2 separate regions of the Homo sapiens genome follow, and region 1 is linked to region 2. A link means that fine-mapping ties the variant in region 2 to the expression of a gene that starts in the linked region. Tissue or cell type: left ventricle. Region 2 holds a variant in brackets; the other region holds the start of a gene. All regions are shown on one strand. Distances are between the middles of the regions.

Region 1 (7,065 bases), 20 kb after region 2:
GTTATCAACGTCATCATCAGCAGAGCTACTATTTATTACTTAAGACCACAGAACAGTTTGGTTATCAACGTCATCATCAGCAGAGCTACTATTTATTAAGTGCTTTACACACATTGTCTCTAATCCTTACAATGACCTTGAAAGGCAGGCATTATTATCTCAATTTGCAGGAGCGGCAATTGATGCTCTGAGAGCTTAAGTAACTTGTCCAAGATCACACAGAGTGTTAAGTAGCAGAGCCAGAATCCAAACTCTCATCCACCTGGTTCCAGCTTGTGCTCATATTTCTACGATGCCACGTTATAATAGAAAGAGCCCTGGGATAGTCACGTAACCTTTCTAGGTCTTAGTCTCTTACAGAGTGTCCTTAATGACCTCTAAGCGTCCTCCTACCTCCAGAATTCTATACATCTATGGGACTCCCCAGAGGGGCCGTAAGTGCAGGAGATGGAAGTATCCTCCTTCCAGGAGTGGGTGGGGTGGCACAAGGGCTCTCATCTCACCTCCCCCATTTTTGTAGCAGAGATAGGGAAACCTCCAGACGTTGCCTAAGCCAATGATCTCCCCAGCCACTGACAGCACAAACTCCATCTTGTTGTTCCAGTGCCCCCGCTCCAGGGTGCCATCTTCCTCCTTCTTTTCCATGACTGGATACACTGGTTTTGTCTCTCCATTACTGGTTGTGCCTGAGACCCTGCTATCCATCCCACCTGGAAAACAAGTGGGATGCTCTGTTACTGTTGGGAACCCCAGAAGGAAACCCCTCCTCCTGCTTTTACCAACAAATCCATAAGGGAATGAATGCACTGGAAGAGGTGAATTTCTATTCCCTTCCCTGTAGACCATGTCCTCCTTAGCAGTTCTCATTGGTAGAAGCTGGGTGACAGCTACTGAAAACATATATTCCTTTCCTGTTTCAGGAAGAAAGTGTTGGTACTGACAGACAGCCTTTGCTTCCACTATAAGGCCCTCTTGGGTTGAGGATTGCAGACATGGAGGAGTTCATGGGCCGCTGTGCTGTCTAAATTCTCCCTGCCACCCTACAGTCAGCCTCGTCGGGATTAGCATGTGCTTCAGTCTGTTTACTCTGTATGCTGGGACACGTTGAAAGGATGGGATTTTACATGTCCTCAAAGCCACCAATTTCCCTTGCAGGAATTTATGCTAAGGAAATAATTGTGATTGTGAGTGAAAGGTGTAGCATTAGGATATTTATTGTTCATAACAGCGAAAAATCGGAAAGTACATAAATTGTCAAAAATGGTAGATATGTTGATAAATTATGGCACATTCATATAATGGACTACTATATATAATCATTAAAACCTGTGTTATAGAAACAAGTATATCGGCACAAAAGGGTGCTCACAATATATAGTAAAAAACAGTACATACAATATGATCATGCTTGACAAATATTTTATAAAGTATTTATAGGCATTGAAGGAGTAGGATAGCCATGAAAATGTTTTTCTTTCAGCAGTTGGGTTATAGGAACATTTCCTTATCTATATTTTCTACAATTACATCAAAAATGTGTTTTACTTTTGTAATATAAAAATAAAAGCCGGTTTTAAAAAAAAATCCTGTCAAAGGATTGGGAGAGGTTGAGTGGGACCAGGAATTGTGAGTAAGATGAGGTGGTCTAAGTACTCCTTCTATGTCTCTCTGAAATCAGCGTAAGGCAGAGATTTACTATGCGCTCTTTTTCTTTTTTGGTGATGACAAATTAGGAGTCTGTGACAGTAGAGAAGATGATATAAATAAAAAGCCACAGTTTTAACCATTCACTGTCAGAAATGGCCCATTCCAGACCACTGTTGGGATTGAGGATGACTGGACGTGGCCCACATTTAGTTAGCAACTACTATAGACTAGGCACTTCACATACATTCTTTTCATTTAATTCTCACAACAACCCTGAGATGTAAGCATTATTACCTCCACTTTATAAATAAGGAAGTTGCAGCTCAGAGAGGTTAAATAATGTGACTGCTGCTGCCATATAGCTACTAACTTGCACAGCCAGGACTTAAACCCACTCTGCCCCTGCTCTTTCAGTTCCATCCCTTTGATTACATTGGCTGCCTAGGTTCACTGGTGTGTCTACTAAAAGCATCTTCTAATGACTCTGCCTTGATTTTGCAGAGTGGCCTCTTTTCTGGAGAAGGAGGCAGATGGACTTTTTTCTAAGCCTCAAGCAAAGTTCATGTTAACAGAACTTTCTCAGCAGTAACCTCTTCTGGCCACAGACTCTACTTTGGCTCTGACCCAGAAAATTAGAAAGTCAGTGAACAGGCCGGGTGCAATGGCTCACGCCTGTAATCCCAGCACTTGGGAGGCCGAGGCGGGTGGATCTCCTGAGGTCAGGAGTTTGAGACCAGCCTGGCCAACATGGTGACACCCCGTCTCTACGAAAAGTACAAAAATTAGCTGGGCATGGTGGCAGGCACCTGTAATCCCAGCTACTCAGGAGGCTGAGGCAGGAGAATCGCTTGAAACCAGGAGGCAGAGGTTGCAGTGAGCCGAGATCGCGCCACTGCACTCCAGTCTGGGCAACAAAGCGAGACTCTGTCTCAAAAAAAAGAAAAAAAAAAAAAGTCAGGGAACAGCAGGCATCTATGTTTATCTGATAAATTAGGGAATGAGCTCCTTTCTACAAAGGAGAAACTCAAGTAACTGGTCCCAAGAGGGCTCCTCAGTCCTTTTGGGAAGGTTGTCTAAGGTACTGACTGTGCTGGCCTCCCCTCCCTTTACCAGCTGATGGATCTCTCCCAGTGATGGAAAGCCTTCCCTTCTCCACCCTCCCAGACCCTAGGAGAAACAGTAGCCTTCTCCTGGCTCCCTTAGCCTCATTAGAGCTGCTTCTCAGAGGTAGCATGTTGTGTCTGAAAGGTCATGAGCTGTAGAGTCAGATGAGGCCAGGTTCAAACATTAGTTTTTTCTCATACCAATGTCTGACTTCAGAGAAGTTAATGAATGACTCTGAGCCTTAGTTTGTTCATCTGTAAAAGTGGGGATGATAGATAGGATATACTTAGCTATAAGAATTAAATGAGGAAATATACATATGTATACACACTTAATAGAATAACAGGTACTCAAATTTTTGTTTTCTTTCAGTCCTGTCAGAGTTGATCATTGTTCTCTTTTCTCAGAGAAGAAAGACTTTGTTTTCTTGGAGTTAAATCCAGTTGTCTTTCCTCTCAATCTAGGGCTCTCTCTTTCCAAATCACAGTGTCACTTAAGTCAACAGCCACCCAAGTTTCAGAAAGTCAAGAAAATAGCACATAATCTTTGCATTTGCACACATACATGTCAGAAGCGTACTTTCTAGGCGAGGGTAAGAAAAAAGTCCTTTGGTTGTAAGTCCCATGGATCCCACCAACCTGCAGTCTGAGACGCAGAAATAGAAAAAAAAGAGAAGAAAACATTTCGAACCTTAGTGAAGCTGCTGCCAGAGGTCCAGTCAGGGGAGAAGAATTATCTAAGGGGGAAGGAGAAGGTGCTGGCTATTTAAAGTGTGGTTCCAGAACGCCTCTGTGGCACTTGAAATTCTAAACTTGGCCCAGCCCACATTCCACCCTTGTGCCTCCCCCTCCCCTTTTCTCCCCTCCCCTCCCCTCGGCCACTGGACAACCCACACATGAGTGATTTCGCAGTCTGGGGAGTGTGCACGCCCTGGCAGGTCGGGCCAGTTGCTGGTGAGCTTATGAAGTGTGGTCTCCTCCCCGGAGCTCATGTGCGCTTCCCACCTGGTGAGCTCAGGGTCTCTCTGGAGGGATCCTGCCTCCCACCCCTGTCTCCAACACAAGTGCTCCTATAAATCCATCAAGAATAGGTATTCCTTTGGTCAGGTGCTGTGTAGATTAATTTAAAAATACATTTATCTTACCGTTTCGCAGCTTGCAATGTGGAATGGACGATGATTTAGAACAAAGATACATAGATACAGAACTCTGAGATGTCAGAAAAACTTCCCAAACATACACAGACATTTATACACATATAGAAAAAGTCTGAAAAAATCTTCGCTAAATGATTAATAGTAGTTACATTTGTAGAGTGGAACTGAGATCAGGAGATGGCAGTAAGGGAGATTTTTTCCCCACTTTTTCAATATTGTTTAGATTTTTTAATATGCTAGAATTTTAAAATATTTTTTAAATCAATAGAGAAAAGGAAGTGCCAACGTTTAAAATAAAGCAAAGCCCTAAAGCTGTTATAAGGGAAGGAGCAGGCGGTGAGCGCGAGGCCGAGGTCATCCAGGGAGCTTCGTTTCTCTGCAGGAACAGCCCACAGAGGCGGCTGTGAGAGTAGTTCATTCAGCCTGGAGTCTAGGACAGGGCAGAGTCCCACCTCAGCCATGTGCTGAAGCACAGTACATGTAGTGGAAACCTGCTCAGACTTTGACACCAGAGAGTGTGGGGTCTGAGTCCTACGTATGCCACTGTCTAGCTTGAGATTTCAGGAGATGATGACTAACTGTAAATGGCAGCTGTTATTCATCCTTAAGGGATTATTCACAGTGAGCAGTGAGCCCGGAAGTCTTCTTGAAGGAGACGGGACTGAGAGACCCCTGAGCTAAGCTGGGCTCTGGCCAGACTGTGAGAATGAGTTAGGTAGGGGATGCGGCAATGAGTGAGTGAGGTGATAGAGACATCTTGAGATGACGGAGAAGTGTGGAAAGAAAGACGGATCGAAGAGTCTAAGGTAGTTTCCGTTTCCTTGATCCCTCATCTAACTCAAGGGCATGGGGTAGGGGCATGGAAACACTGCATGGTAATACCTGGAGAGCTTCCCAGAAGCTTCTTGGAAATTATTATTCTTATGTTTCAGCGGCCCCTGTTCCTCTCCCCTTTCAAGCTTTCATCTGTTAGACTGAGCTCTGTAAAGCAATAAACCAAAAGCGTCCTGAGACAGCCTACAAACTCATGTAAAAAAAAGACCATCTTCAAAGCAGTGCTATTGACTTCCATTTTTACGTATCACTGAGTGGTACTTACTAATGGCCTACTATGCATTATAAACTTTGGCATTTGTAATCTAAAATTACCAGATAACGGGTGTTTTCTCAGATACCATTCAGCCTTTGGCAATGTTGCACAGCCCCTTCTGTGTCCTCACATATGCAAACGGTTGCAATTTCCAGCTTCCAGGAAAGACTGTCAGTGATAAGGACATCATCAGGCTTATCCTGAGTTGGTTGTGAGCTGCTGCTGTTGTATGAAGGAATGTTGGCTTTACTTACCAACTCTTTTGTTTTTACATAACTGCTGCCATGTTACCATGTTGACTCCTATTTTATTCCTCTCCAAATCTTTGTTATCCCCAATTTCTTTTTCCTCTATAAAGTGGGAATGGCTATGGTAGGTTTTTTGTCCTGCTTAGGTTGACAAAAGTTAAAGAAAAAAAAAAAAAGCTTGAGAACCACTGGTAGATAAATGTTGGCGACAGTCCCTCACAACTTCCCGTCTGGGGTTCCACACAAAACAGGCATGACTAGCCTTGCATCTACCTCACGTTGCCATCATCCTTTGGTCTGCTGGGTGCAAAGTCAAGAAACCTGAAAACAGGTAACAACAGAATCCGTATTCAACAGTTCTTACTCAAGAGGCTGCATAAGTTTTAAGACTCACTAGAGATTGTCAGTGAGGATAATTGAAGGCTGTGCTTCCAACAACAGGATTGTATAAAACAAAGTGAACCACGCAAAAAGCAGGCCTAGGAGTCCTGGTTTGTACCAAGTTGATCCCAGGTATGTTTAAATGACAGTACGCCATGATACGCTCTCCCAAAAATTGTTTGACTCTACTAGGAGTGGAATAAGAACAAATAAAATTTTTTTCTAGTTTGACATTTCACAGAAACAAATTTTAAAAGCAGCACGATTTGTTTCAAGAAAGAACATTTCTGAGCAACATCAAGGTGGCAAAGGAAGTGGTGGGTTCTCCTCTGGAGACCTTTAAATTAAGAGATATAGTTCTGTTTAACCACAGGAGTCAGAAACCTGTTGACTTTTTGGATCCCTTTTCAAACATCACACTGAAAGAAAAGAAAAGAGCAAGTAGAACAGACTAAACAACAAATTATGGCTTTTGCTATAACTGAAATAATTTGAACAACAAAATGAATAATGATAGTATTGGATTGTAGCCCAAAGAACAAAGTTCACTAATAAGTTCATGCTGATACAAATAACCAACAAGTTAATAAGTGGGATAAAAGGACTAGTCTTCCTTACAGTTGAATTCCAATTAATACATATAGAAGGATGCCGAGCATGGTGGCATGCACCTGTAATCTCAGTTACTCAGGGAGGCTGAGGTGGGAGGATTACTTAAGCTCAGGAGTTTGAGGCAACACAGCAAGACCCCATCTCAAAGAAAAAGAAGTCTTAATAAATGTAGAAGGAAAGAGAAAAACAGAAAATCACCATTAGACAAACACCACTATAATAATTGTTGCAGACAAGATCTACCAATGAATGCTAAAACTAGTGGGTGAAAGTTCCAGGAGGAACAGAATTTTTACAATTCCAAAGTGTCTCCCCCAAGATATTTATTAACTACAAAGGGAAAAATAGTGATTTTGAAGTAGAGAAGCCAGGCAGAAACCACCTTAACCAAATGACCAAGGTCAACATCACCAGTAATAAGATAGTAATAAGACATCAATATCTCTCTATATCATGAACCATGGATATGATGTACTAAGAGTGACACAACATTTCTGTGGTATTCTTGCCAAACATGCGGTTCAATCACAAGAAACATAAGACGAACCCAAAGTGAGGGGCATTTGACAAAATTACCGATCACTACTCTTCAAAAGTGTCATGAAAGACAAGACAGACAAGACAACAAAGACTGAGCAAGTGTTTTAGGCTGCAGGAGACTAAGGGAAAATCACAACTAAATGCAATGTGGGGTCCTGAATGGGATCCTAGATAGGATCCTGGAATAGAAAAGGACATGAATGTAAAAACTGGTGAAAGTTGCATAAGGTCTTTAGTTTAATAGTTCTCTACCAATGTTAATTTCCTCGTTCTAACAATTGTACTAT
Region 2 (8,056 bases):
ATGAAGACGGTGGATCTTCTTAGAAATGGCCTGTATCTGCTCATGAATGACCAAGTGTAGGCTGGAACCCAGGTCAGCAAATTGTCTGGGTTCCACCTTCAAAATATCCAGACTGATCCTTCTGTCACCTCTACCACCACCCGGTACAGGGTGGCAGCATCAGCTCCCGGCTCCTACCTGGCCTTCGGTTTTCACCCTTGTTCCCCTCGTGGAATCTCCATTTTGTTAAACCTTAGATCACTCTATGTCACACCCCAGGTAAAGGCCTCCCGTGGGTTTCCCGTCCCACTCAAAGAAAAAAGCTGCAGCCCCTTTAGTTGCCTTCAAGGCCATATTGGATGCATTCCACACCATTCCCCTCAGCCACCTGCTCTACCACGTCCACCCTGTTCCCTGCACACGTGGGGTGTGTTGGATCCATTCCCACACCATTTCCCTCAGCCACATGCTCTACCACGTCCACCCTGTTCCCTGCCCCTTCAGCCACGTGCTCTACCACGTCCACCCTGTTCCCTGCACACATGGGTTGTGTTGGATCCATTCCCACACCATTCCCTTCAGCCACCGGCTCTACCACGTCCACCCTGTTCCCTGCACACGTGGGGTGTGTTGGATCCATTCCCACACCATTCCCCTCAGCCACCGGCTCTACCACGTCCACCCGGTTCCCTGCACACGTGGGGTGTGTTAGATGCCGTGCCTCCTCAGTTCCTTCTTCCTAGAGTTCTTGTCCCCCAGCTCAATGACTCGTTCCCCCTCCTCCTTCAGACCAATGCTGAAGGGGCATCTCAGTAAGGCCTTTCCTGACCATGCCACTTAAAATTGCAATCCCACCCATGAAACTCACAGTCTCTGTTTTATTTTCCTCCATAGCCCATCTTCTAACACGACATGTGCTGCTGCTTTCTAAGCAGACACTTCTTATTCACTTGTTTTGTTTATGTCTACCTCCCATCGCTACAATGAAAGCCCCAGGAGGGTGGGGTCTTTGTTTTTGTTTATTACCATATTTCTGGTGCTCAGAACAGAGCCTGGCATATAGCAGGAGCTCAACAAGTATCTGCTGGGTGACTGAAGGCCAGCTAGGTGCTCTCTCCACTAAACCATTCACTTTCCTGGACGCTGCAGTGCACCCAGAAAAGCATTATTTCATCTTGGCGGGACAGCGTGTCTCGTGCTATTCAAATGCTAGGCTCTGAGTAAAACCAGGCTCACTAAGAGAGATGTCAACAATGTCAAAAAATAATACTCAGGTATTTAATGTGCCTCAGAATTGTCCCAGAGACCCCCAGGCAATCCAAAGGAAGGTGGGCCTAATGAAGCCCTGAAGCAAAAGCTCTAGGCCACCAAAAATTGACAAAATTGTTTCAAGAGGGACTCCACTGAGATCTGGATAAAATCTTTACTGTCTGACAGGCTGGTTGTCAAGGGTGGTCTCAGTACACATAGATATTTAAAAAAATAAAAAGGAAGAAAAGAAAATATATATAAAGCTAAAGAAGTATAATAAAACAGATTTTTTTTGGAGACCAAGTCTTTCTCTATTACCCAGGCTGGAGTGCAGTGGCACAATCTCGGCTCACTGCAACCTCCACCTCCCAGGCTCAAGCAATCCTCCTGTCTCAACCTCCCAAGTAGCTAGGGCCATGGGTGTGCACCACCACCCCTGGCAAATTTTTTGTATTTTCAGTAGAGATGGGGTTTCATCGTCTTGCCCAGGTTGGTCTCAAACTCCTGAGCTGAGGCGATCCACTGGCTTCGGCCTCCCAAAGTGCTAGGATTACAGGCGTGAGCCACCGCCCCCAGACTAATTATAATAAAACAGATCTTTAAACCTTGATTCATTCGATCAATATTTTTGAGTGCTTACGATAGAGCCAGCACTGTGCTAGGCACAGAAGCTGTGGAGATAAAGACACCTTTTCTGCCCTCACGATCTTGATGACTAGTGGGAAAACCAAATCAACAAACAGATGAAAAGTGAGGGAAGTGCAGGAGCAGGGCCGGGGCCGGTGCAGGTGCTACCAGACACATTTAACAAGAACCTAATGCCATCCTGGGGTGTCGGAGGAGGTACCCCCAAGGTTTACTTTCCCTTTGAAAAATAACGGTGGAATGGAGGTGGTGGCAGTGATGCACAAAGACGTGCCTGGAAGGGGAGCATCAAGTACAAGGTGAGAGAGGTAAAGGTGAGGTGGTGACACAGACAGGAGTCAGGTCATGAAGGGATGAAGAATATCATCCTAACCGTGCAAAAATGCTTTTCCGGGCAAGTAAAGGATTCAAACTCCAGTTCAGAATTAACTTATCTGAGCAAGAAAGAATTGGGCTGGGCACAGTGGCTCACGCCTGTAATCCCAGCGCTTTGGGAGGCCGAGGCAGGTGGATCACAAGGTCAGGAGTTCAAGACCAGCCTGGCCAAAATGGTGAAACCCTGTCTCTACTAAAAATACAAAAATTAGCCGGGCGTGTTGGCAGGCGCCTGTAATCCCATCTACTTGGGAGGCTGAAGCAGAGAATTGCTTGAACCTGTGGGGTGGAGGTTGCAGTGAGCCAAGATCGCGCCACTGCACTCCAGCCTGGGCGACCGAGCGAGACTCCATCTCAAAAAAATAAAAATAAAAAAGATAAAAAAGAAAGAATTAATCATGGCTAGCCCACTTCAAAGGGCTAGGGCCTTGTTGACTGGTGCTGGAAGATACTTGGACAAGGAGAGAGGGATGTGCCAAGAATCCAAGCAGAACAGCGTCCACCGTGCTCTCCAGCCATGCCGTCCGACAGGGCAGCCACGAGCCACCTGTGGCTGTTTAAGTTAACATTCAATGCAAATGTTAAAGTTCTGTTCCTCAGACCACTTGCCACATTTCAGGTGCTCAATAACCACACATAGGAGTCACTCCAAACCTACACTGGTTCAGTGGGACTGCCCGTGAAAGGTAAATAAATAAATAACCACATGTAGCTGGTATTAAGAACTACCATATTGGATAGTGCAAAGAACATTTTCATCATTACAGACAGTTCTTTTGGACAGCATTGCCCTAGATATTTTTGTTGTTGTTACTTTTTATACATTAGACTCAGTATTTCTATTGCCATGGGTGGCTCAGGTAGTCGTATAAGCACAGGAGAAATTGCAGATATGCAGCACATAGCAACGCTTCAGCCAACAGTGGATCACCTGTATGGCAGTGTTCACATTTGATTATAAAATACGGCATCTTTACTGTACCTTTCCTATGTTGCACTATGTTTAGATACACAAATACTTACCATCGTGCTGCAAGTGCCTACAGTGTTCGGCACAGTATTATAGCAGACGGCCCAGGTGTGCGATGGGCTGGGCCATGTGGGTGTGCACTCTGTGCTGTGTTCATCCAAGGACGAAATTGCCAACAACGCGTTTCTCAGAGTGTACCCTTGTCATTAAGCGACACGTGACTGTAACTGCTATTATAAACCACAGTGGACCCTTGAGCAACATGGATCTGAACTGTGCGGGTCCACTTATACGTGGATTTTCTCCCGCCTCTGCCACCCCTGACAAGCAAGTCCAGATGAATTGCAAGTTTGAAAGACCTAAAACGTACCAGAGAGAAGATAC[G/A]CGAAACAAATGAATGAACAAAACATATATCCATATATCAAACTAACCATATTTCAAATTGATTTAAGCAAATGGCTAAACAACATAAAAGTGGTCAGTTCTCATTGAATATGTTAATTTTTTCTTTAAAAAGTTCCTGACATTTGCCTGTGACGCTGGTGAATTCTTGATCTTATTCTTGACATAAGCTCTCCATGGTCGACTTGGGTGATTTCTGGTGTGTCCGTGTTAAGCGGGGATATAGTGACAAGCCCAATTCCGGTTAATGTGGCAGAACGAGAGGAGGAAGTGGACCCTTGGGTGAGGACCATACCTGTGTTCCACTCATGGTAGCAGCCGCCCCAGGGCAGGTCGATGGTGAAGCTGCTGAAGAGGTAGAACAGGGCCCAGGCCAACACAATGATGTAGTAGACGTTGAGGAGGATGACGATCATCTGGGAGGCATAGCCAATGCCTGCGGGGAAACTGCAGAATTGGGCTAGGAACGGTGGACAGCGGTGGCGTGCACCTGTCATTTCAGCTATGCGGGACGCTGAGGTGAGAGGATTGTCTGAGGCTGGGAGTTCAATTTACCATTGAGGGAAACTGCTATTTTTGTAACTCCCTGTGGATCTATAATTATTTCAAAATAAAAACGTAAAGAAAATCCTATATATGGAGAAATAATGAAATTAAATACTGTAAATTTTAAATACTTGTGTCAAGATAGAACTTTTTTTTTTTTTTGAGATGGAGTTTTGCTCTTGTCACCCAGGCTGGAGTGCAGTGGTGCAATCTCGGCTCGCTGCAACCTCTGCCTCCCAGGTTCAAGAGATTCTCCTGCCTCAGCCTCCTGAGTAGCTAGGATTACCGGTGCCCACCACCATGCCTGGCTAATTTTTTGTATTTTTTGTATTTTGTATTTTAGTTTCACCATGTTGGCCAGGCTGGTCTCGAACTCCTGACCTCAGGTGATCCACCTGCCTCGGCCTCCCAAAGTGCTGGGATTACAGGCATGGGCCACCACGCCCGGCCAAGATAGAACTATGAATGAAATAATTTTTTCTCATTTAAAGTTCTCTTTTAAAATGTTTATAATTGATTTAAATATGTCTTAAAATACAACAACATTGTTATGTGTTTAAAACATATGGCTAAAGTGGCTTTGCACTCTACTTACCTAACCTAAAGCCTCTGCCCCATCCTCACTGCTGTTTCTTGCCCATTCTCTGATAGATCAGCTGACTAGCTCAGTATGCAGCCCACAAACCAAGGGTTTAGCATAGAGACTCGGGATCTTATCTTAACCTCAGAACTGCTACTAATCACTCAAGTCATTCCAAACAAGGTTTATAACCACGAATGAAGACGCTTTGGAGTCAGGTACAGAGCTACTCACCCTCAAAGATGGGGCAGATCTTCCTCCAGGCTGTGACGCCTCCCTGGCTAGTGTACTGGCCTAGTGCTGTCTCCAGAAGGAAGACAGGAATGCCACAGGTAAAGAGGAAGACGAGGTAGGGGATGAAGAAGGCACCTGTGGTTAGAAAACAGGCTGTTCATTTCCTGGGACTATTCTCCTCATGGTCTGCATTCACCTCCTCCCATTACCAACCCATACTGCCAGTCAGAATCTCGGAGGCAGAGAACATGCAAAACTGCAGGAGACAGCTGTCTAGATGTTTGGAACATAGCAGAGATCAAGAGTCACCCCATTATCTAAGATCTACACAGCCTCTTGCCTTTTTTCACTGCAGTTTCAGTCTATACCTATTAAAGTTTGTTCCCCACTGAACAATTACTGCTTAACACATAACTTGTGGCAATAACAAGGAGCTTATTAAATAATGGATGTCTAGGAGCATTGGCACAGCCCACAGTCTATAATTCTTTTCAAAGAAAGCATTGCTCTTAACGTCAGGTAGTCTTTTAGTAAGCTGAAATCAGATGCCCTTTCAGTCATTGTTATGGTTTGAATGTATCCCCTAAAGTTCGTGGTTGGAAACTTAATTCCCTATGCAACAGTGTTGGGACGTGGAGCCTAATAAGATGTAAGTCATGAGGGCTCTGCCCTCATGAATGGATTAATGTTATTACTGTGAGACTGTGTTTGTTATAAAAGTGAGTTTGGGCCAGGCACAGTGGCTCACGCCTGTAATCCCAGCACTTTGGGAGGCTGAGGTGGGAGGATCGCTTGAGCCCAGGACTTCAAGACCAGCCTGGGCAACATGGGAAAACTCTGTCTCTAAAAGAAATACAAAAAATTATCTGGGCATGGCTGTGTGTGCCTGTAATCCTAGCTACTCGGGAGGCTGAGGTGGGAGGATTGATTAAACCTGGGAGTTCGAGGCTGCAGTGAGCTGTGATTGTGCCACTGCCCTCCCTCCAACCTGGGTGACAGAGCAAGACCCTGTCCAAAAAAAAAAAGTGTATTTGGCTCTCTGTCTTTTATATGAATATTCTCTTGCCTTTCTGCCTTCTGCCATGGGCTGACACAAAGAAGAAGGCCCTCACCAGAGGTGGACTGCTTGCCCTGGACTTCCCAACCTCCAAAACTATAATAAATAAATATCTGTTCCTTATAAATTACCCATCTCAGGTGTTCTGTTGTAGCAACACAAAATGAACTAAGCTAGTAATCTGTCTCCTTCTGTTTTTATAAGCATTGGCGGAGACAAGACTACTGATGCCAGATATACTGGTATTTTCCCTACCATGGACCTGTCATCTGCTGGCAAAGTGGACAGCACAGTTCATAGGACACAGAGTACCAGAGAAGACAGAACTGCACAGACAGGAGAATCTGCAGAGGGTCCCCCTCAAGCTTCCAACTGAGTACTAGTCAGTGCATATGTGTGAGAAAACTGAGGTGAGGGAAAGAACCATTCAAAATGATTAAAAGTAATGGTGCTCACACACTGCCAGAGTAAATAATCTCAAGATTCACCAGGCATTAGGCAGAGTACGCAGAAGGGCATTTCCTCAGTAACGGGGAATAATTATCCCTAGACCGAGCACACTTCTATTGCTACCTAACCAATCTTAAAAGCAAGATATAAAAAGAGCAAGTAACTTCACTGATCCCAGAACAGAGCTAAAGAATATTTACAGAAATACGAAATTGGCCGGGTGCAGTGGCTCACGTCTGTAATCCCAGCACTTCGGGAGGCTGAGGTGGACAGATCACCAAGTCAGGAGTTCAAGACCAGCCTGGCCAATATAGTGAAATCCTGTCTCTACTAAAAATACAAAAATTAGCCTGGCATGGTGGCACGCACCTGTAGCTCCAGCTACTTGGGAGGCTGAGGCAGGAGAATTGCTTGAACCTGGGAGGCAGAGGTTGCAGTGAGCCGAGATCGTGCCACTGCACTCCAGCCTGGGCAACAGAGTGGGACTCTGTCGCAAAAAAAAAAGAAAGAAAGAAAAGGCAGGGTGTGGTGGATTACGCCTGTAATCCCAGCACTCTGGGAGGCCAAGGCAGGCAGATCACGAGGTCAAGAGATCGAGACCATCCTGGCCAACATGGTGAAACCCCATCTCTAGTAAAAATACAAAAATTAGCTGGGCGCGGTGGCTCAAGCCTGTAATCCCAGCACTTTGGGAGGCTGAGGCAGGTGGATCATGAGGTCAGGAGATCGAGACCATCCTGGCTAACACAGTGAAACCCCATCTCTACTAAAAATACAAAAAAATTAGCCGGGTGTGGTGGTGGGTGCCTATAGTCCCAGCTACTTGGGAGGCTGAGGAAGGAGAATGGCGTGAACCCAGGAGGCGGAGGTTGCAGTGAGCCGAGATTGTGCCACTGCAATCCAGCCTGGGTGACAGAGCAAGACTCCATCTCAAAAAATAAAAGTAAAAATAAATAAATAAATAAATAAATAAAATACAAAAATTAGCTGGGCATGGTGGCATGTGCCTGTGGTCCCAGCTACTTGGGAGGCTGAACCAGGAGAATTGCTTGAACCCGGGAGATGGAGGTTGCAGTGAACCGAGATCGCTCCACTGCACTCCAGCCTGGCAACAGAGTGAGACTCTGTCTCAAAAATAAATAAATAAATAAATAAATTATCCAGCAACCCATAAAGCAAAAATATTACCAGGTCTGGTATTCAATCGAAAATTACCAGGAAAGCAAAGAATCAGGAAAATGTTACTCATAGCAAGGAGATTGAACCTGACCCATAATTTACAAAGATGTTAGAATTAGCAGATGAGAATATTTAAAAGTTATTATAACTGTATTGCAAGTGTTCCAAAAGTTAGGGATATAAAAGATATTGAAAAAGACCCAAATAAAACTTCTGAACATGAACACTACAGTGTGTGAGATTTAAAGAAATACATTGGATGGGATTAATGTTAGTAGGCAGAGCAGAAGAAAAGATCAGTGACCTTGAACCATAATAGAAACTATCTAAAATAAAACACAGAGAGAAAAAAGAACATTTTTGCTGGGCATGGTAGTTCATGCCTGTA

What was found. PIP is the estimated chance that this variant, and not a neighbour inherited with it, causes the effect. A credible set is the group of variants that fine-mapping cannot tell apart.
Region 1: SLC6A13 starts here. The variant in region 2 is the best candidate, but not a certain one, in a credible set for the expression of SLC6A13 in left ventricle (GTEx, PIP 0.53).

Annotation. Positions count from the first base shown.
Region 1 is chr12:259,348-266,412 of GRCh38, forward strand. SLC6A13 (solute carrier family 6 member 13) reads right to left here and starts at 3,489. Exons shown (of 15, transcript NM_016615.5): 1 at 3,442-3,489; 2 at 504-710. The coding sequence starts at 705.
Region 2 is chr12:238,697-246,752 of GRCh38, forward strand. It overlaps SLC6A13 (solute carrier family 6 member 13), which reads right to left. Exons shown (of 15, transcript NM_016615.5): 3 at 4,983-5,117; 4 at 3,918-4,058. Among named protein-coding and RNA genes, the nearest start is that of SLC6A13, 20 kb to the right of the region's middle. The variant G/A (reference allele first, on the strand shown) is at 3,605.